Homo sapiens: one gene and its partners. The protein of the gene in region 3 interacts with the protein of the main gene of each other region in a biochemical or structural test. Each region holds a gene or a part of one and is shown on either strand. Other genes may lie near its edges. The genes, in order: ITGA2B, STMN2, CIB1 and TERT.

What was found.
Region 1: the proteins of CIB1 (region 3) and ITGA2B form a complex in vitro, tested with the Homo sapiens proteins (one study listed by BioGRID).
Region 2: the proteins of CIB1 (region 3) and STMN2 form a complex in vitro, tested with the Homo sapiens proteins (one study listed by IntAct).
Region 4: the proteins of CIB1 (region 3) and TERT form a complex in vitro, tested with the Homo sapiens proteins (2 studies listed by BioGRID).

What each region holds. Positions count from the first base shown.
Region 1 is NC_000017.11:44,379,650-44,386,679, reverse strand, and holds part of ITGA2B (integrin alpha-IIb preproprotein), read left to right. Parts: intron 1-548; coding exon 549-670; intron 671-758; coding exon 759-856; intron 857-963; coding exon 964-1,129; intron 1,130-1,344; coding exon 1,345-1,394; intron 1,395-1,470; coding exon 1,471-1,516; intron 1,517-1,603; coding exon 1,604-1,732; intron 1,733-2,094; coding exon 2,095-2,142; intron 2,143-2,325; coding exon 2,326-2,369; intron 2,370-2,541; coding exon 2,542-2,595; intron 2,596-2,733; coding exon 2,734-2,786; intron 2,787-2,975; coding exon 2,976-3,187; intron 3,188-5,618; coding exon 5,619-5,801; intron 5,802-6,034; coding exon 6,035-6,080; intron 6,081-6,189; coding exon 6,190-6,294; intron 6,295-6,378; coding exon 6,379-6,434; intron 6,435-6,526; coding exon 6,527-6,678; intron 6,679-6,865; coding exon 6,866-6,991; intron 6,992-7,030. UniProt on the Homo sapiens protein: Integrin alpha-IIb/beta-3 is a receptor for fibronectin, fibrinogen, plasminogen, prothrombin, thrombospondin and vitronectin. It recognizes the sequence R-G-D in a wide array of ligands.
Region 2 is NC_000008.11:79,663,097-79,666,668, forward strand, and holds the end of STMN2 (stathmin-2), read left to right. Parts: intron 1-483; coding exon of another isoform or gene 484-565; intron 566-1,718; coding exon 1,719-1,778; 3' UTR 1,779-3,062; downstream 3,063-3,572. UniProt on the Homo sapiens protein: Regulator of microtubule stability. When phosphorylated by MAPK8, stabilizes microtubules and consequently controls neurite length in cortical neurons.
Region 3 is NC_000015.10:90,230,926-90,238,876, reverse strand, and holds the start of CIB1 (calcium and integrin-binding protein 1), read left to right. Parts: upstream 1-4,935; 5' UTR 4,936-4,991; coding exon 4,992-5,042; intron 5,043-5,173; coding exon 5,174-5,208; intron 5,209-6,429; coding exon of another isoform or gene 6,430-6,549; coding exon 6,550-6,658; intron 6,659-7,369; coding exon 7,370-7,520; intron 7,521-7,663; coding exon 7,664-7,782; intron 7,783-7,854; coding exon 7,855-7,943; coding exon of another isoform or gene 7,944-7,951. UniProt on the Homo sapiens protein: Calcium-binding protein that plays a role in the regulation of numerous cellular processes, such as cell differentiation, cell division, cell proliferation, cell migration, thrombosis, angiogenesis, cardiac hypertrophy and apoptosis.
Region 4 is NC_000005.10:1,278,058-1,285,087, reverse strand, and holds part of TERT (telomerase reverse transcriptase), read left to right. Parts: intron 1-2,463; coding exon 2,464-2,659; intron 2,660-4,749; coding exon 4,750-4,930; intron 4,931-5,617; coding exon 5,618-5,797; intron 5,798-6,291; coding exon 6,292-6,447; intron 6,448-7,030. UniProt on the Homo sapiens protein: Telomerase is a ribonucleoprotein enzyme essential for the replication of chromosome termini in most eukaryotes. Active in progenitor and cancer cells. Inactive, or very low activity, in normal somatic cells.

The DNA of each region.
Region 1 (7,030 bases), on a different chromosome or scaffold from region 3:
ACCAGTCATTGGTTATGAAATTGGTATTCCTATTTCACATATGGCAGAATTGTGATTTAAACCTAGATCTGCTAGGGTCCTCCTATCAGCACACACACTCCAGCCCCACTTTAGAGGTACCCGCTACCTTCCCTCATTAAAACCAGCTCTCAAGAGGGGATCTGGTAACAGTCTAGGCAGGCATTCCAGGGAGCATGTGAACCGCTGGTTCTTGTTGCGGGTGGAAGGATGGAGGTGTTGTACAGAGTTTAGGTCTTTTTCAGCAAAGATCTCAAACCCCTGGTGTTCAAATCAAACCAAATGGTTATAGTCCCAGCTCTACTCTCAACTCACTGGGTTACTTTAGCCACGTGATTGCCCTCGCTGAGAGTCGGTTTCACTGTCCATAAGATGAAGAAGTACATCACGGTGGTCTGTGAGGTGTCATTGAGGAAAGATGGTCCAGTGCCCCCATGCCACATGGCCTTCCGGGCAGTGCTCCCAGCGCCGGCGCCAGGGCCTGGGATACGCTGGAATCTGCGCGGCGCTCACCCAGCTTTCCTATGCAGAGTGGCCATCGTGGTGGGCGCCCCGCGGACCCTGGGCCCCAGCCAGGAGGAGACGGGCGGCGTGTTCCTGTGCCCCTGGAGGGCCGAGGGCGGCCAGTGCCCCTCGCTGCTCTTTGACCTCCGTGAGTCCCAGGCAAGGAGAGCAAGGTTGGGGTCAGAGGGACGTGGACTGCCGGGCTTCAGCGCCCCACCCCTTCTTGTGCCTTCCAGGTGATGAGACCCGAAATGTAGGCTCCCAAACTTTACAAACCTTCAAGGCCCGCCAAGGACTGGGGGCGTCGGTCGTCAGCTGGAGCGACGTCATTGTGGTGGGCCCCGCGGTACAGGGCACAGGGAACAATCGGGGGCAGGGACACCTGGGGCCAGGAGGAGCCCAAGTCTCGCGCCCGTCCCCACTCCTGTGGCCTTTCTCCAGGCCTGCGCCCCCTGGCAGCACTGGAACGTCCTAGAAAAGACTGAGGAGGCTGAGAAGACGCCCGTAGGTAGCTGCTTTTTGGCTCAGCCAGAGAGCGGCCGCCGCGCCGAGTACTCCCCCTGTCGCGGGAACACCCTGAGCCGCATTTACGTGGAAAATGATTTTAGTAAGCGCCAGCTACGACCTGGCCCCGCCCACTCGCGACGGCTTGGCCCCGCCCCCATCGGATCCCGCCCCCAGCGCCGCAGCCCTTGCTTTGGATCTGGCCTCGCCCCAGGGCCCCGCCGACTCAAGGCCCCGCCCCTGTCCCCCAGCCCTCCTCCGGGCTCGCGCGCGCCTCCCTTCACCCCTGCGCTGACCCCTCCTCCTTGTCTCCTGCAGGCTGGGACAAGCGTTACTGTGAAGCGGGCTTCAGCTCCGTGGTCACTCAGGCGAGTAGGGAGCAAAAGCGCAGTGGGGGCGGCTCCCAAACAGGGCCCCCTCTCACCCTCAGGACTTCCCTTCCAGGCCGGAGAGCTGGTGCTTGGGGCTCCTGGCGGCTATTATTTCTTAGGTACGTGCCCATCCGTACACCTCCCTCCCTTCTCGCGGCCCAAGGAGACCGCTTTGGGCTTCACACCCGCTGTCCCTCCCGCCCTAGGTCTCCTGGCCCAGGCTCCAGTTGCGGATATTTTCTCGAGTTACCGCCCAGGCATCCTTTTGTGGCACGTGTCCTCCCAGAGCCTCTCCTTTGACTCCAGCAACCCAGAGTACTTCGACGGCTACTGGGGTAACACCGCCATTCCAGACTTCCAGCACCCCGAGGGTCACCGCCCACCGCAGACGGTCAGGTCCTGCCCCTGTGGGAGCCTCCATGGCCACCCCTGCCGGCCAACCCACCGCCTAAGCCGCTCCCGCCCTCCGCTCCTGCGGCTTCCCCGCAGACCGCCCACCTCCCATGCGCCCACCGCTCCCTTCCACTGCGGACTCGTAGCGCAGCCTGGGGCAGGGCTTGGCCCCTCGAAGGCCTCCGTTTTTCCATCTGCACAATGCAGGGCTGGGGCTGAGTGGCCTTAATCTCCTCCTTCTTTGCCCTCCGTCCCCTCTGTGCTTCCTCCCCTGGAAAAGACTAATTTGCGCCCTTGTCCTCAGGGTACTCGGTGGCCGTGGGCGAGTTCGACGGGGATCTCAACACTACAGGCAAGAAATCCACTTAGGGCGGGAGTTGGGTAGCCCAGCCCGGGGAGGAGCGCCTTCCTGAAATCTCCCCTATGTAGGGAAATCTTCCTGCACACACATTTTTCCCTGGGTGCAGAACGGGGAGCGGGAAGTGGGTAGGTTCTAAGGCTCTCATTCCCTGAGCCTGGCTCTCCCTATCGCCAGAATATGTCGTCGGTGCCCCCACTTGGAGCTGGACCCTGGGAGCGGTAAGTGCCCCCACCACTGGGCCTCCCGAAGCCCCTTATCCCAGTTCTCAGGCTGACAACTCCTGAGCGCCCCCCACCCCCGCCCCGCCTCCACCAAACCACCCTTTCTCACCTGGAGTGGGAGGTTGCTTTGGGTACAAGAATGATGCTCTCGCCTGCGCTGTCCGTGCAGGTGGAAATTTTGGATTCCTACTACCAGAGGCTGCATCGGCTGCGCGGAGAGCAGGTGGGGGCCAGGTCCCAGTGGGCGTGGCTGGGTGGAGGGGGAACTGAGACTTCAGAATATTTCATGGGAGGTGAGGGCCCATTTCTTAAAGAGGATGCTTGTCCAGCGGCGTGAATGATGGTGCTCCTCATCTTGCAGATGGCGTCGTATTTTGGGCATTCAGTGGCTGTCACTGACGTCAACGGGGATGGGTGAGGAGGGACATGCCCCACCCCTACCCAGTTGGGTCCCAAATTACCAGAGCTGCCCTCTGTCTCCCTTTCCTAGCCCTAGTCTCACGTATCCACTGGAGGAACAGGAGAGCAAGGGTCGAGGAGATTTGGCCCTAGCCCCAATATACCCCTGGTCCAGTCCCATGTAACCACTCATCTGGCCCACAGGAGGCATGATCTGCTGGTGGGCGCTCCACTGTATATGGAGAGCCGGGCAGACCGAAAACTGGCCGAAGTGGGGCGTGTGTATTTGTTCCTGCAGCCGCGAGGCCCCCACGCGCTGGGTGCCCCCAGCCTCCTGCTGACTGGCACACAGCTCTATGGGCGATTCGGCTCTGCCATCGCACCCCTGGGCGACCTCGACCGGGATGGCTACAATGGTGAGGGAAGAGAGGAGCCCTACTTGCTGCAGAGGGGTTAACAGCCACTCAAAAAGCATGGAGTTGGCCTGAGGGCAGCCAGAACCAGGATGGGTTTTAAGCATATAAGTATGTGGCTTAGACACATGGGGTGCTGAGTGGAGAGCAGATGGGAGAGTTGAAGACTAATTAGGAAGTGTTTGCCTTAATCCAAGCAAGAGACAATGACCACCTGGATGTGGATTTTGGCAGTGGAGTTAGAGATGGGAGTGACTTCACAGATATTTAGGACTCGGATTATTAGGACTTGGTGGGAGACTGGATGTGGGGCCAGGGGAGAGGTTGGAGTTGGGTGCCTGTGATGGCCTCCACTGCCTGGAACTCAGGCCGTGCAGCAGGTGCTGGGGAGAGGCGGGAGATCAGCAGTTCAGCTCTGGACCTGTTGAGCTTGAAGGGCTTGGGTGCTTTAGGCGGAAATATCCAAAGAACAGTTGGGAGTGGCTCTCCCCGCTTCCACAAGAGAGATCTGAATGGGAGACAGGGGTTTGGGGAAAGTGGATGAGGTCCCGGGACCTGTGAAATAAGAGGCCCAGGATAGAGCCCTAGGGAGCAAAAGCATTTAGGTGACTCCTACAGGAGGTAAGTCTGAGAAGGAGACAGAGGAGTGTCCAGAGAGGGAGGAGGGAACCCAGGGGGTCTGATGGCCCGGGACTCAAGGAAGAGCATGCGTTAAAGAGCATGCACAGGAGGAAGTGGGCGCTGCAGCTCCTGCTGCTGCTGCAAGATACAATTAGGTGGGGCTGGAGAAATATTCATGGGCTTTAGCAAGAAGAGGGTGCCAGGCATGGTGGCTCATACCTGTAATCCCAGCTACTTGGGAAATTGAAGCAGGAGAATCTCTTGAACCCGGGAAGTGGAGGTTGCACTGAGCTGAGCTTGCGCCACTACTGCACTCCAGCCTGGGTGACAGAGCAAGACTCCATCTCAACAAAATAAAAAAAAAAATAGAGAAAGAAAGGAAGAAAGAAAAAAGAAGGGGAGGTTATTGGTGACAGTGACATAAATTGATTCAGGCCAAGATAGGGTCAGAAGCCAGAATGCAATGGGGTAAGGTATGAATGGAGATGAAAAATTGGATGCAGCTAATGTAGACAGCTCTTTCAACAGGTTTGTGGTAAAAAGGAATTTGAGGAATAGAAAGGAAAAAAAAAAACATGTTTGACTATAAGAGGAAAAAGAGAAAAGGTGATCACAGAAAAGAGATGAGGGTCAAGGGAAGATTATTTCAATGTGGAAGAACATGTAGTAGGTTGAAAATGATGTTGTGGGGAAATGGGGGGATGAGCCAGCAGAGAGTCCCTGTGATGCCTCAGGGGGTGGGAGGGTGACTGGCCCAGTGTCAGGGTGAAGGAAGGAAACCTCTTCCAGGGTCAAATGGGGAAAGGGAAAAGAAAGTTGGTGTGGGATTATAGCATAACAGTGGGCTGCCTCTCTTCCTGAAGTAAGAGATTACGTCACCTGCTGAAGGAAGTGTGGGGGGTCTGGGAGTTTGATGGAATGGAGAAGGCTAGAAATAGATGCTAGATGGCCAGGCACGGTGGCTCACACCTGGAATCCCAGCACTTTGGGAGGCCGAGGCAGGAGGATCACTGGAGCCTAGGAGTTTGACACCAGCCTGGCCAACATAGGGAGATCTCGTCTCCATAAAAATTTTTAAAAATTAGCTGGGCATGGTGGCTATAGTCTCAACTGCTTGGGAAGCTGAGGTGGGAGGATTGCTTTAGTCCAGAAGGTTGAGGCTGCAGTAAGCCATGGTTGCACCACTGCACTTCAGCCTGAATGACAGTGCAAGACTGTCTTAAAAATAAAAAAATTTTAAAAGGGGCTTGGGCACGGTGGCTCACACCTGTAATCCCAGCACTTTGGGAGCCCAAGGTGGGCAGATCACTTGAGGTCAGGAGTTCGAGATCAGCCTGGCCAATGTGGTGAAACCCCGTCTCTACTGAAAATACAAAAATTAGCCGGGCATGGTGGTAGGCGCCTGTAATCCCAGCTACTGAAGAGGCTGAGGCACAAGAATCACTTTAACGGGGGAGGCAGAGGTTGCAGTGAGCCGAGATCGCACCACTGCACTCCAGCCAGGACAACAGAGCGAGACTCCATCTCAAAAAAAAAAAAATTTAGAAAAGGGAATAATGATGCTTAATTTTCAGGATATATTTTCCTCAATAGACAGTGAGAGTTGTCACTGTTTTTATAACAATCCTACTTGGCAGGTCCCTCTCCCACCTGATTGTTAACTCCTGGAGGGTAGGGCAGTGCCTCCTTCACCCACACTTTGCACCCCTTTCCTAGTCTCCTGGGATGTTCCCAGAGAAGCTCAGGAAAGTTTTACAGTCATCTAGGGAGGCTGAATAACAATCAGCCACTTCCTTTCTGTTACTCCTTCCAGACATTGCAGTGGCTGCCCCCTACGGGGGTCCCAGTGGCCGGGGCCAAGTGCTGGTGTTCCTGGGTCAGAGTGAGGGGCTGAGGTCACGTCCCTCCCAGGTCCTGGACAGCCCCTTCCCCACAGGCTCTGCCTTTGGCTTCTCCCTTCGAGGTGCCGTAGACATCGATGACAACGGATACCCAGGTGCCCTGGACTGCCTCCAGCTAGAAATGCCCAAGAAAGGCCCTTGGACATTCGCTGGAAGTGCCAAGAGACACGGCCAGGGGCTCATGCCTGGCCTGGTGTCCCACTATGGACTGCCAGAGGGGCTGGGTGAAACCTCCAGTGGGGGAGGTGGTGTGGGGAACCCCTGGGAAGATGAGATGAGGATCCCATGCCCTAATCGCCAATTCTGACCCATTCCTCGATGTCTATAGACCTGATCGTGGGAGCTTACGGGGCCAACCAGGTGGCTGTGTACAGGTGAGCACTGGCTCCAGGGGCGGGATGGGGAAGGTCCTGTGCCATCAAGAGGAGGCCAGGCCAGGAGGAGCCACAATGGCAAGCCTACCCCATCACCCTATCCCATCAGAGCTCAGCCAGTGGTGAAGGCCTCTGTCCAGCTACTGGTGCAAGATTCACTGAATCCTGCTGTGAAGAGCTGTGTCCTACCTCAGACCAAGACACCCGTGAGCTGGTGAGGAGGCAGAGGGCATGGGCCTTAAAGGATCTGGGACCTCAGAAAGGCTCCAACCCCTGAGCCCCACTTACGTCTTTGCAGCTTCAACATCCAGATGTGTGTTGGAGCCACTGGGCACAACATTCCTCAGAAGCTATGTGAGTGGCATGAAGGGGGCAGGAGGGAGGTGGGCTTGGACTCCCCCGGAGGCTGGCCAGGGAGGTCCTGACTCTTCTGCTTGCCCTGCCAGCCCTAAATGCCGAGCTGCAGCTGGACCGGCAGAAGCCCCGCCAGGGCCGGCGGGTGCTGCTGCTGGGCTCTCAACAGGCAGGCACCACCCTGAACCTGGATCTGGGCGGAAAGCACAGCCCCATCTGCCACACCACCATGGCCTTCCTTCGAGTACGCCCAGGCAGGGGATTGGCAGGGCTGGGAGAGTAGAACTTACCCACTGGACTTGTTCATCTAGCCCTGGGGCACTGAGCTGGGTGCTGTGAGTCCGGGGGTGGTCAGGACACGGTGCCTACTGGCCAGGAGAAGGTGGGATGTGTATGGTAGCAAGATGGCCTGACTCTTGCCCCTGTCCTAGGATGAGGCAGACTTCCGGGACAAGCTGAGCCCCATTGTGCTCAGCCTCAATGTGTCCCTACCGCCCACGGAGGCTGGAATGGCCCCTGCTGTCGTGCTGCATGGAGACACCCATGTGCAGGAGCAGGTAGGGACAGGCAGGGACAGGCCAGGGAGGTGCAGGACC
Region 2 (3,572 bases), on a different chromosome or scaffold from region 3:
GTTTTTAATCTCTTTCTCTAGAGTCAACTTCCTGCTTACTCCAACTCTGTATCTTTGAAGGAAGTATAGGGTGGTCTATGCCTTTTTTCTCCCAGAATCTACACTTGAAAAGACACATTTTTCCATGCAACTATAAAATGTTCTCCTCACTCAACATTGAAATTGTATAGCAGTGATTAAGAGAGTGAGCTGTAGAGCCAGGTTCCCTGGGTTTAAATCCCACTTGTTAGTATCATGAAGATGGGCAAGTTACTTACCCTTCCTGTGTTTCAGTTTCTTCATCTGCAAAATGGGGACAATAATAGAATGTCCACTATAAGATTATTGTGAGGATTAAGGGAATTAATACAGGTAAAACGTGTACTGATGCAGGTCTGGTACACATTAAGTGCCTAATAAATATTCAGTATTATGATATAAAGAACCCTATAAGTGTAGACTCCTTGAGATTAATAGAGTTTAACGATAAGTTTTACTTTATAGCTGGTCAAGTTTATTTCTTCTGAACTAAAAGAATCTATAGAGTCTCAATTTCTGGAGCTTCAGAGGGAAGGAGAGAAGCAATGTAAGCAACATTCTACAGAAATATAAATAATACTACTAATAATTAGCATCTTAAAATTTCAATTCAATGAACATTTATTTAGCGCCTATGATATATGCAAGACAGTTTGATTTTAGTCATCTGATGTATAGCCACATACTAAAAAATACTGATTTTAGTCATCTGATGTATAGCCACATACTAAAAAATACTTCCTCCATCAGTTCCCTCCTCAGGAAGTTCAGTTCCCAATCCCAGGCTAGTACCTTGGTTCCTTATGTAAATAAACATCCACCAATTACATGCTATCTGCAAAGCACTCTGCTAGGCCCTGCAAATGGAAAAAAAAATGATAAAACATAGTCCAGGCCCTCAATGAGCTTACAGTCAAATATAATAGAGGAGACAAGAACAGAGAGGCTCATAATACAACTAGAATAAAATGACTGCCGAATAAAAGGAAAGATTTATGCAGGTGTTCAAATGGAAAGTGAGATAAGTTTGCAGGTTAGTCTTTGCAGTCTCATAAAAATCTTTATGGAGAAAAGGACAATGGTCATAGGGCTTAAAGAGTAAGTTTATAATCCTGACCAGTGGAGATGAAAGACTAGCATTGAAAATTGCATGACAAGACAATTCCATTAAACTGAAACATCAAGTGTGTGTAGGAAAAGATGGGGGTTATGACTGGAAACGTCACTTGGACTGCAATTATGAAGGGCCTTGACAAACAGGTCAAGAGTTTAAGAAGCAGTATAGAAAGTCTTCGTCCTGGATCTAGCCCTCCCAGAGTGTCCATCAGGATTATAAAGTCCTTAAAATATTAGTCAAAAGGAACGACATCATTAGAAATGATAGAGAAACAATAATGTGATGTTTTATTACCTTTCTCTGGATTTATACTCTGATCCTAATATTCAAAACTATCTTAATAACATGAACTTTTGGTCATAGTTTTAAACAAAAACAGTGTTAAATATATTTTTTAAAACACAGTAAGTCTTGTAAGATCTTTTCTAACATGACATTTTGCAGGGCCCATATTTTCCTTCTGAAATGGGAAAAATTCATAAAAGTAGACACCAAACTGGGTTACTTCTAGTCAAGCGCATGGTACGCAAAGGACCAGACAAAAAGGGCCTGTGACATTTCTTCTTCCTTTTGTGTTTTTTAGGAGAGGCATGCTGCGGAGGTGCGCAGGAACAAGGAACTCCAGGTTGAACTGTCTGGCTGAAGCAAGGGAGGGTCTGGCACGCCCCACCAATAGTAAATCCCCCTGCCTATATTATAATGGATCATGCGATATCAGGATGGGGAATGTATGACATGGTTTAAAAAGAACTCATTATAAAAAAAAAAAAACAAAAAAAATCAAAAATTAAAAAAAATCAATGCGGTCTCTTTGCAGAATGTTTTGCTTGATGTTTAAAAAATACCTTGGATCTTATTTTGTAAATACTTACATTTTTGTTAAAAAATACAAGTATTGCATTATGCAAGTTATTTCATAATCTTACATGTCCTGTAACAGGCTTTTGATGTTGTGTCTTTCCACTCAAATGAATTTGCTAGGTCTGTTCTTTTTGAAGCTCCCCATGTCTAACTCCATTCCAAAAGAAAAATGAGGTCAGTAGACAGTCTATGGTGCTAGAAACCCACCATTGCCTAATGACCTAGAAGGCTTTGTTGTCTCTGAGCTTGACTAAGACCATACCTAGATCACAGGTATTATGACTCCACATGAACCTTCACATTTGTTCGCTCATAATCTACTTACTGCCTAAAAACTACAAAACCAGGCTAAGAAATACCACCAGTCATAGCATTTACTTCTGCTTCTCCTGGATTATGTGCTACAAATGTGCTTTGGCTTTAGAAAGGGATGGATGAGAAGACAGACCTGAGACCAATCTGGGTAGAAGCAAAAAGTTGAACCTTTTAAAGTGCTGAACACAAATCCAAATTCGAATGGTTCAAGCAGCCGTGAAATCGCTCTTCATAAAGTGGGCTTAATTCTCTAGTTTAAGTTCTTTTGATGGAATGAATTAATTAATGTGTCAGGTGGCTTATTTGTGGATGCCATGATTGATGATGTTCATTTTAAGCTCTTACCTATAGTACAAGTACATGATGCTACTGAATATTTTTCCACTTGGAAACTGTGAGCTGGTTGTTGCATTAAAACACACATACAAACAAAATCAAAAACACTGCGGACTTTCACTCAAGCTGGTCTTTCTTCCCCAGTGTAAGGCAATCCTGCCTACTAACAACACCAACAACAAAACACTCCATCTGTGAAGCTGACGCAGTTAAGGGGGCTAGGCAGGGCATTTGTGCCAACTAAGAATCACCAGATACCCACCATAAGTACCTATCGCAGTTTTGAAGTCGTTTCTCCCCAACTCCCAACTCCTGAAGGTTGCTGCCTGCATATTTACTCTTCATTAGTGCTATTTTCCTGTATGTCATTGTGAGCAAGCTGTGATTAATAAAGAATTGGAGTTCTGTGAACTAATAAAGGTTTGGTCTGTTCTCTTGCCTCTTCATGTGTCTGACCCTGGAGTTCAGATTTTAAAAGGGCAGCCACTGAATTAGACAATCTCACAAGCAAAGAGATAATAAGGAGAGTTTGAAGGAAACCAGTGCCCTGCTGAGTCATTTCCCTTTGGGAACAGCAGGCCGCATCTCTTTTCTCTTGCCCTCTGATGGGCCAACACTGTGGGAGAGGTCTTCAATCTGCTCCCTTTAAAAACATACAGGACTGAACAAGATACCACAAAATGCAGACTGATAATTCTGAGGAAGTGAGCCCTTTTCAAAACATTGAAGGTTCCTGGCATTATCTCAAGTTCTCCCCTGTGGCCCACAGAACGCCTCCCCCAGCCTAGGCCGTCTGTTAAGATGTGATCCCTGACGTACTGCTGAATTTTGTACTGCCAATAAACACACTGCACACATGGGCGCAGCAGGGTCCTGTCAGTGACCCAAATGGATCTTACAGGACCAAAGGAACCACATCCAGTTT
Region 3 (7,951 bases):
GCTCAGATTTTTTATACACACCATCAAACTGCCCTCCAGAAAATCATACCTGAGTTCCAGTGCATGAGAGTGCTCAGGGTTTCAAAGATGACCACTTCTTTTGTGGGAAAAGCTTTTCCATGTTCCATAGTGATTCCAATTGGTCATGCATAGAAACATTTGGGTGAGGATGGCACTGATGTGTGGGTAAGTGTCCAGGGCCAACCTTTCAAGGGGGAAATTAGTGCCTGTCTTCATCTTCCCCTGGCTGCCTGGAGCCCTGGACCCAGCACTGTCAGGGAGAGGGGTCTGCCACTGGCCCAGATAGGATGTCAAAAGGAGGCATTACCTTAGTAGAGTCACTTCAGTCCAAGTTTGGGTTCCTTCAGCTCTGCTGCTCCAGAAACTTCATGTTAATAAAACAGAAAGGAAACAAAACATATAAAAAATTACATATCAAAAGTCAAGCTAAGTTTAATGAGTATTGAGGCTTAGTTTGCAAGATGAAAACGTCCTGGAGATTTGCCGCACAACATCGTGAATGTGCTTAACACGACTATACACTTAGAAATGGTTCAGATGGTCAATTTTTTTTTTAAAGACAGAATCTCACTCTGTCAGCCAGGCTGCAGTGCAGTGGCACGATCTTGGCTCACTGCAACCTCCACCACCCAGGTTCAAGTGATTTTCATGCCTCAGCCTCCTGAGTAGCTGGGACTACAGGTGTGTGTCACCACGCCCGGCTAATGTTTGTATTTTTAGGAAAGACCAGGTTTCACCATGTTGGCCAGGCTGGTCTCGAACTCCTGACCTCAGGTGATCCACCTGCGTTGGCCTCCCAAAGTGCTGGGATTACAGGCGTGAGCCACCGCACCTGGCCAAAAATGTTTAAAAGTGAAGCTAATCCTTTGAGCTGGAGCTGCAAGGTAAAAGACAACAACAACAAAAAAGTGAAGCTAAGCATAATTTTGATGATCAAATGTAGTATCTTATTCTCACCTTACTGCAATGTCTGCCTCCCAGACTCAAGCAATCCATCCACCTCAGCCTCCCAAGTAGCTGGGACCACAGGCACTTGCACCAGGCCTGACTAATGTAGTATCTTATTCTAATAAAAGAGAATCTTATCTGACAGGCGAAAAAATTTAAAATGAGATAATAAAAATAATACAAAACCAAAAAAAGGAGAAAAAAAAGAGATAATCTTAGACATTTTTTCAAATAAGATATAAAGATGGCCAACAAGCACATTTGGGATGTTTAACGTCATTAATCAATAAGAAAAGGCAAATCAAAATCACAATGAGGGGCTGGGTGCGGTGGCTCACACCTGTAATCCCTGGACCAGCACATTGGGAGGCTGACGCAGGTGAATCACGAGGTCAAGATACCGAGACCATCCTGGCCAACATGGTGAAACCCTGTGTCTACTAAAAATACAAAAATTAGCTGGGCGTGGTGGTGGGCACACACCTGTAGTCCCAGCTACTTGGGAGGCTGAGGCAGGAGAATCACTTGAACCTGGGAGGTGGAGGTTGTGGTGAACTGAGGTGGTGCCACTGCATTCCAGCCTGGTGACAGAGCAAGACTCCATCTCAAAAAAAAAAAAAAAAAGGGAAAAAAAGAAAATTACAATAAAGTCCGGGCACGGTGGCTCACGCCTGTAATCCCAGCACTCTGGGGGGCCAAGGTGGGTGGATCACGAGGTCAGGAGTTCGAGACCAGCCTGGCCAATATGGTGAAACCCTGTCTCTACTAAAAATACAAAAAAATTAGCCAGGTGTGGTAGTGGGCGTCTGTAATCTCAGCTACTCGGGAGGCTAAGGCAGGAGAATCGCTTGAATCTGGGAGGCAGAGGTTGCAGTGAGCTAAGATCGCACCACTGCACTCCAGCCTGGTGACAGAGTGAGACTCTGTCTCAAAAAAATAAATAAAATAAAAAATAAAAGTATATCAGCAGCTCGGTTTTATCACTGTACCAAGAGTTGATCAGGTACAGGAGGGACAATATGCTAACCAGATTCACCGAGGACTACCAAATGATTCAGACTGCCCATTTAATAATCTACCATGAGAGGCCGGGCGTGGTGGCTCAGCACTTTGGGAGGCTGAGGGAGGCGGATCAAGAGATCAGGAGATCGAGACCATCCTGGCCGACATGGTGAAACCCCGTCTCTACTAAAAAAAAATACAAAAATTAGCTGGGCGTGGTGGTGCACTCCTGTAATCCCAGCTACTCAGGAGGCTGAGGCATGAGAATCAGGTGAACCTGGGAGGCAGAGGTTGCAGTAAGCCAAGATCATACCACTGTACTCCAGCCTGGTGACAGAGTGAGACTCCATCTCACAAATAAAAATAATTTACAATGAGAAATATGCCAAATGGCACAAAAGGTTCTTGCTGGCTGGTCAGTGTACAAAATGAATCAGGAAGCAAAATGAAAACCAAAGGTTGTTCCATGAAGGGTTCAGAGCCAAGTGAAGTGACTGAGAGATCTAGATCACAGCTGGTCACCAGGCACAAAGCTGACTCTCATGTCTTCACTATAAAGAGATACTTATGGCTGGGTGCAGTGGCGCACGCCTGTAATCCTAGCACTTTGGGAGGCCAAGACAGGCGATCACCTGAGGTTGGGAGTTCGAGACAAGCCTGACCAACATGGAGAAACCCCGTCTCTACTAAAAATACAAAACTAGCTGGGTGTGGTGGCACATGCCTGTAATCCGAGCTATTCAGGAGGCTGAGGCAGGAGAACTGCTTGAACTCAGGAGGCGGAGGTTGCGGTGAGCTGAGATCATGCCATTGCACTCCAGCCTGGGCAACAGGAGTGAAACTCTGTCTCAAAAAAAAAGAAGACAGATACTTATTACCATGCAGTCCAGGTATTCGCCTTGGCTTGTAAGAGGCAAACAAGGTCTATTTAGTACAGGAGACATAATGACAGCTTCTTGCTTTTTGCCTAAGCTTTTACTAACAGAAGACTAACTCTTTCTCGGACAGAAAGAGCCTGCTATTAAGAGAAAAATGATCGGCCGGGCACGGTGGGTCACGCCTGTAATCCCAGCACTTTGAGAGGCCGAGGTGGGCGAATCACGAGGTCAGGAGATCCAGACCATCCTGGCTAACAGGGTGAAACCCCGTCTCTACCAAAAATACAAAAAAATTAGCCGGGTGTGGTGGCGGGTGCCTGTAGTCCCAGCTGCTGGGGAGGCTAAGGTAGAAGAATGGCGTGAACCCAGGAGGCGGAGCTTGCAGTGAGCCAAGATCATGCCACTGCACTCCAGCCTAGGCGACACAGCGAGACTCTGTCTCAAAAAAAAAGAGAAAAATGATCAGGTTGGGATGGGCCTATACCCTAGTTATTTTTTTTTATTTTTATTTTTTGAGACAGAGTCTCACTCTGTTGCCCAGGCTGGACTGCAGTGGCACAATCTCCGCTCACTGCAACCTCCAGCTCCCAGGTTTAACCATGTCTGGCTAATTTTTGTATTTTTAGTAGAGATGGGGTTTTGCCATGTTGGCCATGCTGGTCTTGAACTCCTGGCCTCAAATGATCCGCCTGCTTCAGCCTCCCAAAGTGCTGAGATTACAGGCATGAGCCACCGCGCCTGGCCTTGAATATTTCTACAATGATGGAATGTACCTGTTAATACAGTGTGTCTTATCAAACACATGCTGCCAAGGAGAGCACTGGGTATTCTTCCAGTGTAAAGTAGATTCCTAGGCAGTCTAGGGAGTCAGGAAAGGCTTCCCTGAGGATGAGATGGAAGAGGGACTGAGGGCCCAAAGTGGCTGAAAGACAGAGAGCCAATAGGAGGAAGTCCAGTTACAGAGGGCCAGGATTTGGGTTTTTAACCATTTAATGGTTATAAACTGAGACTAACATACTCAGATTTAGACTTTACAAAGATCAGCAAGTATAATGGATTGGAAGGATCAAGAATTAATCCCAGCCTGACCAACACAACCTCCACTTCCTCCTCCCAGCAGTTTGGAATCCTTACCTTTTGCAATAGTATACGTTCATTCATTTATTATGCATTCGATAATATTTACTGAGAGCCTACTATGTGCCAAACATTATCCTAGAGGTTAAGAGGGGACAAGAGCAAAGGGTCAGCAGTCTAGGGGTGAGATGGAGTCAAAAGGACGGCAGGTCAGCTGGAATGATGAGAACAGCAGTGGAGAGCCTTTAAAAGTGCCTTGGACTGGACCGATTACCTTCTAAATGCCGGCGCCCGGAAAAATCACTAACACCCTTTGGACTTACGTATTTCCATCTTTGTAAAATGGGAACCTACCTCGCAAGGGATGTTGCAACAATCGAAGAAAACTATGCACAATGCTTGACATCCAGTGGGTCCTCAGTAAATAGCCTAAGAAGGAAGCAAGGTTATGGTTACTTCTGGAAGAGGTGGCTTGGGGGCTGCGACAGGTGCAGCGATTGCCTGATGATAACATCTAGAAAAGCCCTTGCTGGGCAGAGGGGCAGCCGACGACCCCCGCCACTCAGCGAGTCTCCAGGTTTCCCGGAAACGCTAGCTCCAGTGACTTCTCAGATGCCCCTATGGGACCCCACCCAGGGCTGCCGCCGCCACCACCTACTGCAGCCGAAGCGGATGCACCTCGCGACTTTCCCCGCAGCCGCTGCCGGGGCCACAGCGAGGTCATGACGCCCGTGACGCATACGCAGCCAGCACGCACGCGCGCGGCGTGGCCCGCCCCCCCCTCCCACCCCGGAGGCGGGGCCGTGAGTCCCGGGCTCCGCCCCGGAGCGTCGGGCCCCTCCCCGGGCCCCGCCTCCAGCTCGCCTAGGACCGCTTGGAGCCGGCAGCTCGCCTGCCAAACCCGGCTGGGAACGCCTGGCAGCTTTTAGGAGGGGGCGGGCCCGGGGGTGGTGGCCCCAGGAGCGGTTGCCGCGGGGACCGGGCAGTGACGCGGCCCAAGGGCGGAAGTGAGAAAGTTGTCTGCGTCTCGAGGCGAGTTGGCGGAGCTGTGCGCGCGGCGGGGCGATGGGGGGCTCGGGCAGTCGCCTGTCCAAGGAGCTGCTGGCCGAGTACCAGGTGCGCGGGACGCCTGGCCCTGGGGAGCTCGCGTGCGGGCCTCTTCTCGGGAGCAGGGTCCGGGAGCTGGCTGCGGGGCGGCCGCGGCCTCCCAGCGGTCCGCTAATCCCCGCTCTGGCTTTGCCTTCCAGGACTTGACGTTCCTGACGAAGCAGGAGATCCTCCTGTAAGTGCTGCCTTGAACCCTGCCTCCGACCCCGGGATCCTCTAGAGACAGCTTCGGGGGCGCTGTCCCGAGGGAGGGGCGGGGGCTGGCCTGAGGTCTGCAGAGGAGCGGGAGCTGGAGGCCGGGAGACCTAGCCCGGGCTGCGCCCTCCTCCCGGCACGCCCTCCCCGCCCTCGCCTGAGGCCCCAGCGTGGCACCGCGGAGCCACCTTACAGCCTCCAGGAAAAGTTAGGCGCTCTTTGACCCTGGGCTCCACTAGCTTCAGCACTGCCGAACTTCCTGCCCCAGTCCGGCAGGGGCCGACCTTGCCCAGTGGCTAAACCACAGAAGCCTTGGGGAGCCCGGCTCCTTCTCCCAACTTTACCTGAATAATACAGTAACCGTTATCGCTTTCTGAGCACTCACCATGTGCCAGGGACTGTGCTAAATGGTTGCCTGCGTTACCTAATTTAATCTTTAGGAGAGAGGTACTGGACAATGAAACAGGTTCAGAAAGGTTTGGTAACTGCTTAAGACAACACTCTGAGTAAGTAGATTTGAACTTGGGCTGGAAGCCCTTTTGCCGGATTTATGCAGGCCAGGTTCCTGTGGCAAAGATAAGCTCATGGGAAGGAGGTGGAGGCCGAGGAGGACAGTTCAGTGTGGTTGCTAAAAAGGAGGCTTTGAGGGTAAGAGATCCCTGGAGTGAAGGTGAGAATGAGATTTTTGGTTTTGCTCTTTTCTCCGTTTTTTTTTTTTTGAGACAGCGTCTCGCTCTGTCGCCCAGGCTGGAGTGCTGGGGCACGATCTTGGCTCACTGCAGGCTCTGCCTCCGGGTTCAAGTGATTCTCCTGCCTCCGGGTTCAAGTGATTCTCCTGCCTCAGCCTCCTGAGTAGCTGGGATTATAGGCACCCGCCACCATGCCCGGCTAATTTTTGTATTTTTAGTAGAGAAGGGGTTCACCATGTTGCTCAGACTGGTCTCAGACGCCTGACCTCCAAAGCTCCGCCCGCCTTGGCCTCCCAAAGTGCTGGGATTACAGGTGTGAGCCACCGTGCCTGGCCAATTCTTTAGGGCCAACTTCTGGCTCCTTTCCCAACTTCTTCATCCCTTGGGGATCTCTAGAATCAGTGCCAAGCACATAGTAAATGCTCAGTAAATACTCATTGCAAGAATAGACTCCTAGGCTGTACTGCCTTGTGACATGTCCTTTTGCTTACCGTTGCCTGATGACTCGGAAGTTCTGTGTACGTGGTTTTAGCTCCTCACCTGGTTGACAATGAGCAGCAGGCAAGGAGTGGGAATGAACACACAGGGAGACCGATCGCTGAGAACACCGACAGTTCCCCTCTCTCTACCAGAGCCCACAGGCGGTTTTGTGAGCTGCTTCCCCAGGAGCAGCGGAGCGTGGAGTCGTCACTTCGGGCACAAGTGCCCTTCGAGCAGATTCTCAGCCTTCCAGAGCTCAAGGTGCAAGCGCTCCCCTCCTTTGACACCTCTCCCACCACTCCCTCCCTGCTAGACCCCCTAACTCCATCTGCCACTAGCTTTGGGATCATGGGGTCACTGGTCCCCACTCTGGTCATTTTTCTGCTTAGTTCTGATTTTCTAGGGGCAAGGACTTTACCAAAATCACCTGGCAGAATTATCTAGAATGGTGCTTTTCAAATGGGGATTCTAGAACATAATCTTGGAAGTTCAAAGAAGTTTTGTCCCTTAAGAGGAGTTGAGGTACCTCATTAGAGTTTGAGGAACCGTGTTCTAGAGGCTGATTGCCACTCCGTAAGGCTGCTGCAAAATTTCTGTGCAAAGGGCCTGGCCCGGTGCCTGTAACACAATAGCTGTTCAAGTAAATATTTGTGTTTTAAAATAACCAGCCCATCTCGTTCCCTTTGTTTAGGATGACTTCTTCTTCCCTCTCTGCCCACACTTACGTTGTATGTGACCTGCCTTTGGGTTAAACACTTGACTCCCAGGAAGCCATCTCAGTCCCTTCCCCAGCTGGGTCAGTTTGCTTTCCTGTGCCCCCACTGCCCTCCATGTTGGCCCCAAAGCACTGACTGTTCACCCCCACGAGGCTGAGCTCGCTGGTGCTGGTCCTGTGACCTGCTCTCTCAAGTTTCTGGTAGGCTTTAATGAGCGTGTGACCTGGGCCACGTCCTGTGGCGTTTGTTCTCCTAGGCCAACCCCTTCAAGGAGCGAATCTGCAGGGTCTTCTCCACATCCCCAGCCAAAGACAGCCTTAGCTTTGAGGACTTCCTGGATCTCCTCAGTGTGTTCAGTGACACAGCCACGCCAGACATCAAGTCCCATTATGCCTTCCGCATCTTTGGTGAGAACCAGGAGCAGCCCGGCAGGACACCACCCCTTCCCACGTGGGCTTTGTGGTGGCCCTGCTTGGGAAATGGGCGCCGTTTGGGGAACCTCAGAGCCCCTCCCAACCGTGTCTTTTGGCTTCCTGTGTCTGCTCTCTAGACTTTGATGATGACGGAACCTTGAACAGAGAAGACCTGAGCCGGCTGGTGAACTGCCTCACGGGAGAGGGCGAGGACACACGGCTTAGTGCGTCTGAGATGAAGCAGCTCATCGACAACGTGAGCAGCTGAGCAGGCCTGGGAGCGGGAGGGAGCAGTTGGGGCTCTGGCCTGAAACTCTCCCTTTCCCAGATCCTGGAGGAGTCTGACATTGACAGGGATGGAACCATCAACCTCTCTGAGTTCCAGCACGTCATCTCCCGTTCTCCAGACTTTGCCAGGTATGACA
Region 4 (7,030 bases), on a different chromosome or scaffold from region 3:
GGATGGTGCAGGTCAGGGGTGAGGTCTCCAGGCCCTCGGTGAGCTGGAGGTATGGAGTCCGGATGATGCAGGTCCGGGGTGAGGTCGCCAGGCCCTGCTGTGAGCTGGATGTGTGGTGTCTGGATGGTGCAGGTCTGGGGTGAGGTCACCAGGCCCTGCGGTGAGCTGGGTGTGCGGTGTCTGGATGGTGCAGGTCTGGAGTGAGGTCGCCAGACGGTGCCAGACCGTGCGGTGAGCTGGATATGCGGTGTCCGGATGGTGCAGGTCTGGGGTGAGGTTGCCAGGCCCTGCTGTGAGTTGGATGTGGGGTGTCCGGATGCTGCAGGTCCGGTGTGAGGTCACCAGGCCCTGCTGTGAGCTGGATGTGTGGTGTCTGGATGGTGCAGGTCTGGGGTGAGGTCGCCAGGCCCTGCTGTGAGCTGGATGTGTGGTGTCTGGATGGTGCAGGTCTGGAGTGAGGTCGCCAGGCCCTCGGTGAGCTGGATGTGCAGTGTCCAGATGGTGCAGGTCCGGGGTGAGGTCGCCAGACCCTGCGGTGAGCTGGATGTGCGGTGTCTGGATGGTGCAGGTCTGGAGTGAGGTCGCCAGGCCCTCGGTGAGCTGGATGTATGGAGTCCGGATGGTGCCGGTCCGGGGTGAGGTCGCCAGACCCTGCTGTGAGCTGGATATGCGGTGTCCGGATGGTGCAGGTCAGGGGTGAGGTCTCCAGGCCCTCGGTGAGCTGGAGGTATGGAGTCCGGATGATGCAGGTCCGGGGTGAGGTCGCCAGGCCCTGCTGTGAGCTGGATGTGCGGCGTCTGGATGGTGCAGGTCTGGGGTGTGGTCGCCAGGCCCTCGGTGAGCTGGAGGTATGGAGTCCGGATGATGCAGGTCCGGGGTGAGGTCGCCAGGCCCTGCTGTGAGCTGGATGTGCGGCGTCTGGATGGTGCAGGTCTGGGGTGTGGTCGCCAGGCCCTCGGTGAGCTGGAGGTATGGAGTCCGGATGATGCAGGTCCGGGGTGAGGTTGCCAGGCCCTGCTGTGAGCTGGATGTGCTGTATCCGGATGGTGCAGGTCCGGGGTGAGGTCGCCAGGCCCTGCTGTGAGCTGGATGTGCTGTATCCGGATGGTGCAGGTCTGGGGTGAGGTCACCAGGCCCTGCGGTGAGCTGGTTGTGCAGTGTCCGGTTGCTGCAGGTCCGGGGTGAGTTCGCCAGGCCCTCGGTGAGCTGGATGTGCGGTGTCCCCGTGTCCGGATGGTGCAGGTCCAGGGTGAGGTCGCTAGGCCCTTGGTGGGCTGGATGTGCCGTGTCCGGATGGTGCAGGTCTGGGGTGAGGTCGCCAGGCCTTTGGTGAGCTGGATGTGCGGTGTCTGCATGGTGCATGTCTGGGGTGAGGTCGCCAGGCCCTTGGTGGGCTGGATGTGTGGTGTCCGGATGGTGCAGGTCCGGCGTGAGGTCGCCAGGCCCTGCTGTGAGCTGGATGTGCGGTGTCTGGATGGTGCAGGTCCGGGGTGAGGTAGCCAAGGCCTTCGGTGAGCTGGATGTGGGGTGTCCGGATGGTGCAGGTCCGGGGTGAGGTCGCCAGGCCCTGCGGTTAGCTGGATATGCGGTGTCCGGATGGTGCAGGTCCGGGGTGAGGTCACCAGGCCCTGCGGTTAGCTGGATGTGCGGTGTCTGGATGGTGCAGGTCCGGGGTGAGGTCGCCAGGCCCTGCTGTGAGCTGGATGTGCTGTATCCAGATGGTGCAGGTCCGGGGTGAGGTCGCCAGGCCCTGCAGTGAGCTGGATGTGCTGTATCCGGATGGTGCAGGTCTGGCGTGAGGTCGCCAGGCCCTGCGGTTAGCTGGATATGCGGTGTCGGATGGTGCAGGTCCGGGGTGAGGTCACCAGGCCCTGCGGTTAGCTGGATGTGTGGTGTCCGGATGGTGCAGGTCTGGGGTGAGGTCGCCAGGCCCTGCTGTGAGCTGGATGTGCTGTATCCGGATGGTGCAGGTCCGGGGTGAGGTCGCCAGGCCCTGCGGTGAGCTGGATGTGCTGTATCCGGATGGTGCAGGTCTGGCGTGAGGTCGCCAGGCCCTGCGGTGAGCTGGATGTGCAGTGTACGGATGGTGCAGGTCCGGAGTGAGGTCGCCAGGCCCTGCGGTGGGCTGTATGTGTGTTGTCTGGATGGTGCAGGTCCGGGGTGAGTTCGCCAGGCCCTGCGGTGAGCTGGATGTGTGGTGTCTGGATGCTGCAGGTCCGGGGTGAGTTCGCCAGGCCCTCGGTGAGCTGGATATGCGGTGTCCCCGTGTCCGAATGGTGCAGGTCCAGGGTGAGGTCGCCAGGCCCTTGGTGGGCTGGATGTGCCGTGTCCGGATGGTGCAGGTCTGGGGTGAGGTCGCCAGGCCCTTGGTGAGCTGGATGTGCGGTGTCCGGATGGTGCAGGTCCGGGGTGAGGTCACCAGGCCCTCGGTGATCTGGATGTGGCATGTCCTTCTCGTTTAAGGGGTTGGCTGTGTTCCGGCCGCAGAGCACCGTCTGCGTGAGGAGATCCTGGCCAAGTTCCTGCACTGGCTGATGAGTGTGTACGTCGTCGAGCTGCTCAGGTCTTTCTTTTATGTCACGGAGACCACGTTTCAAAAGAACAGGCTCTTTTTCTACCGGAAGAGTGTCTGGAGCAAGTTGCAAAGCATTGGAATCAGGTACTGTATCCCCACGCCAGGCCTCTGCTTCTCGAAGTCCTGGAACACCAGCCCGGCCTCAGCATGCGCCTGTCTCCACTTGCCTGTGCTTCCCTGGCTGTGCAGCTCTGGGCTGGGAGCCAGGGGCCCCGTCACAGGCCTGGTCCAAGTGGATTCTGTGCAAGGCTCTGACTGCCTGGAGCTCACGTTCTCTTACTTGTAAAATCAGGAGTTTGTGCCAAGTGGTCTCTAGGGTTTGTAAAGCAGAAGGGATTTAAATTAGATGGAAACACTACCACTAGCCTCCTTGCCTTTCCCTGGGATGTGGGTCTGATTCTCTCTCTCTTTTTTTTTTCTTTTTTGAGATGGAGTCTCACTCTGTTGCCCAGGCTGGAGTGCAGTGGCATAATCTTGGCTCACTGCAACCTCCACCTCCTGGGTTTAAGCGATTCACCAGCCTCAGCCTCCTAAGTAGCTGGGATTACAGGCACCTGCCACCACGCCTGGCTAATTTTTGTACTTTTAGGAGAGACGGGGTTTCACCATGTTGGCCAGGCTGGTCTCGAACTCATGACCTCAGGTGATCCACCCACCTTGGCCTCCCAAAGTGCTGGGTTTACAGGCTAAGCCACCGTGCCCAGCCCCCGATTCTCTTTTAATTCATGCTGTTCTGTATGAATCTTCAATCTATTGGATTTAGGTCATGAGAGGATAAAATCCCACCCACTTGGCGACTCACTGCAGGGAGCACCTGTGCAGGGAGCACCTGGGGATAGGAGAGTTCCACCATGAGCTAACTTCTAGGTGGCTGCATTTGAATGGCTGTGAGATTTTGTCTGCAATGTTCGGCTGATGAGAGTGTGAGATTGTGACAGATTCAAGCTGGATTTGCATCAGTGAGGGACGGGAGCGCTGGTCTGGGAGATGCCAGCCTGGCTGAGCCCAGGCCATGGTATTAGCTTCTCCGTGTCCCGCCCAGGCTGACTGTGGAGGGCTTTAGTCAGAAGATCAGGGCTTCCCCAGCTCCCCTGCACACTCGAGTCCCTGGGGGGCCTTGTGACACCCCATGCCCCAAATCAGGATGTCTGCAGAGGGAGCTGGCAGCAGACCTCGTCAGAGGTAACACAGCCTCTGGGCTGGGGACCCCGACGTGGTGCTGGGGCCATTTCCTTGCATCTGGGGGAGGGTCAGGGCTTTCCCTGTGGGAACAAGTTAATACACAATGCACCTTACTTAGACTTTACACGTATTTAATGGTGTGCGACCCAACATGGTCATTTGACCAGTATTTTGGAAAGAATTTAATTGGGGTGACCGGAAGGAGCAGACAGACGTGGTGGTCCCCAAGATGCTCCTTGTCACTACTGGGACTGTTGTTCTGCCTGGGGGGCCTTGGAGGCCCCTCCTCCCTGGACAGGGTACCGTGCCTTTTCTACTCTGCTGGGCCTGCGGCCTGCGGTCAGGGCACCAGCTCCGGAGCACCCGCGGCCCCAGTGTCCACGGAGTGCCAGGCTGTCAGCCACAGATGCCCAGGTCCAGGTGTGGCCGCTCCAGCCCCCGTGCCCCCATGGGTGGTTTTGGGGGAAAAGGCCAAAGGGCAGAGGTGTCAGGAGACTGGTGGGCTCATGAGAGCTGATTCTGCTCCTTGGCTGAGCTGCCCTGAGCAGCCTCTCCCGCCCTCTCCATCTGAAGGGATGTGGCTCTTTCTACCTGGGGGTCCTGCCTGGGGCCAGCCTTGGGCTACCCCAGTGGCTGTACCAGAGGGACAGGCATCCTGTGTGGAGGGGCATGGGTTCACGTGGCCCCAGATGCAGCCTGGGACCAGGCTCCCTGGTGCTGATGGTGGGACAGTCACCCTGGGGGTTGACCGCCGGACTGGGCGTCCCCAGGGTTGACTATAGGACCAGGTGTCCAGGTGCCCTGCAAGTAGAGGGGCTCTCAGAGGCGTCTGGCTGGCATGGGTGGACGTGGCCCCGGGCATGGCCTTCAGCGTGTGCTGCCGTGGGTGCCCTGAGCCCTCACTGAGTCGGTGGGGGCTTGTGGCTTCCCGTGAGCTTCCCCCTAGTCTGTTGTCTGGCTGAGCAAGCCTCCTGAGGGGCTCTCTATTGCAGACAGCACTTGAAGAGGGTGCAGCTGCGGGAGCTGTCGGAAGCAGAGGTCAGGCAGCATCGGGAAGCCAGGCCCGCCCTGCTGACGTCCAGACTCCGCTTCATCCCCAAGCCTGACGGGCTGCGGCCGATTGTGAACATGGACTACGTCGTGGGAGCCAGAACGTTCCGCAGAGAAAAGAGGGTGGCTGTGCTTTGGTTTAACTTCCTTTTTAAACAGAAGTGCGTTTGAGCCCCACATTTGGTATCAGCTTAGATGAAGGGCCCGGAGGAGGGGCCACGGGACACAGCCAGGGCCATGGCACGGCGCCAACCCATTTGTGCGCACAGTGAGGTGGCCGAGGTGCCGGTGCCTCCAGAAAAGCAGCGTGGGGGTGTAGGGGGAGCTCCTGGGGCAGGGACAGGCTCTGAGGACCACAAGAAGCAGCCGGGCCAGGGCCTGGATGCAGCACGGCCCGAGGTCCTGGATCCGTGTCCTGCTGTGGTGCGCAGCCTCCGTGCGCTTCCGCTTACGGGGCCCGGGGACCAGGCCACGACTGCCAGGAGCCCACCGGGCTCTGAGGATCCTGGACCTTGCCCCACGGCTCCTGCACCCCACCCCTGTGGCTGCGGTGGCTGCGGTGACCCCGTCATCTGAGGAGAGTGTGGGGTGAGGTGGACAGAGGTGTGGCATGAGGATCCCGTGTGCAACACACATGCGGCCAGGAACCCGTTTCAAACAGGGTCTGAGGAAGCTGGGAGGGGTTCTAGGTCCCGGGTCTGGGTGGCTGGGGACACTGGGGAGGGGCTGCTTCTCCCCTGGGTCCCTATGGTGGGGTGGGCACTTGGCCGGATCCACTTTCCTGACTGTCTCCCATGCTGTCCCCGCCAGGCCGAGCGTCTCACCTCGAGGGTGAAGGCACTGTTCAGCGTGCTCAACTACGAGCGGGCGCGGCGCCCCGGCCTCCTGGGCGCCTCTGTGCTGGGCCTGGACGATATCCACAGGGCCTGGCGCACCTTCGTGCTGCGTGTGCGGGCCCAGGACCCGCCGCCTGAGCTGTACTTTGTCAAGGTGGGTGCCGGGGACCCCCGTGAGCAGCCCTGCTGGACCTTGGGAGTGGCTGCCTGATTGGCACCTCATGTTGGGTGGAGGAGGTACTCCTGGGTGGGCCGCAGGGAGTGCAGGTGACCCTGTCACTGTTGAGGACACACCTGGCACCTAGGGTGGAGGCCTTCAGCCTTTCCTGCAGCACATGGGGCCGACTGTGCACCCTGACTGCCCGGGCTCCTATTCCCAAGGAGGGTCCCACTGGATTCCAGTTTCCGTCAGAGAAGGAACCGCAACGGCTCAGCCACCAGGCCCCGGTGCCTTGCACCCCAGTCCTGAGCCAGGGGTCTCCTGTCCTGAGGCTCAGAGAGGGGACACAGCCCGCCCTGCCCTTGGGGTCTGGAGTGGTGGGGGTCAGAGAGAGAGTGGGGGACACCGCCAGGCCAGGCCCTGAGGGCAGAGGTGATGTCTGAGTTTCTGCGTGGCCACTGTCAGTCTCCTCGCCTCCACTCACACAGGTGGATGTGACGGGCGCGTACGACACCATCCCCCAGGACAGGCTCACGGAGGTCATCGCCAGCATCATCAAACCCCAGAACACGTACTGCGTGCGTCGGTATGCCGTGGTCCAGAAGGCCGCCCATGGGCACGTCCGCAAGGCCTTCAAGAGCCACGTAAGGTTCACGTGTGATAGTCGTGTCCAGGATGTGTGTCTCTGGGATATGAATGTGTCTAGAATGCAGTCGTGTCTGTGATGCGTTTCTGTGGTGGAGGTACTTCCATGATTTACACATCTGTGATATGCGTGTGTGGCACGTGTGTGTCGTGGTGCATGTATCTGTGGCGTGCATATTTGTGGTGTGTGTGTGTGTGGCACGTGTGTGTCCATGGTGTGTGTGCCTGTGGTGTGCATGTGTGTGTGTCTGTGACACGTGCATGTTCATGCTGTGTGCTGCATGTCTGTGATGTGCCTATTTGTGGTGTGTGTGTGTGCATGTGTCCGTGACATATGCGTGTCTATGGCATGGGTGTGTGTGGCCCCTTGGCCTTACTCCTTCCTCCTCCAGGCATGGTCCGCACCATTGTCCTCACGCTCTCGGGTGCTGGTTTGGGGAGCTCCACATTCAGGGTCCTCACTTCTAGCATGGGTGCCCCTGTCCTGTCACAGGGCTGGGCCTTGGAGACTGTAAGCCAGGTTTGAGAGGAGAGTAGGGATGCTGGTGGTACCTTCCTGGACCCCTGGCACCCCCAGGACCC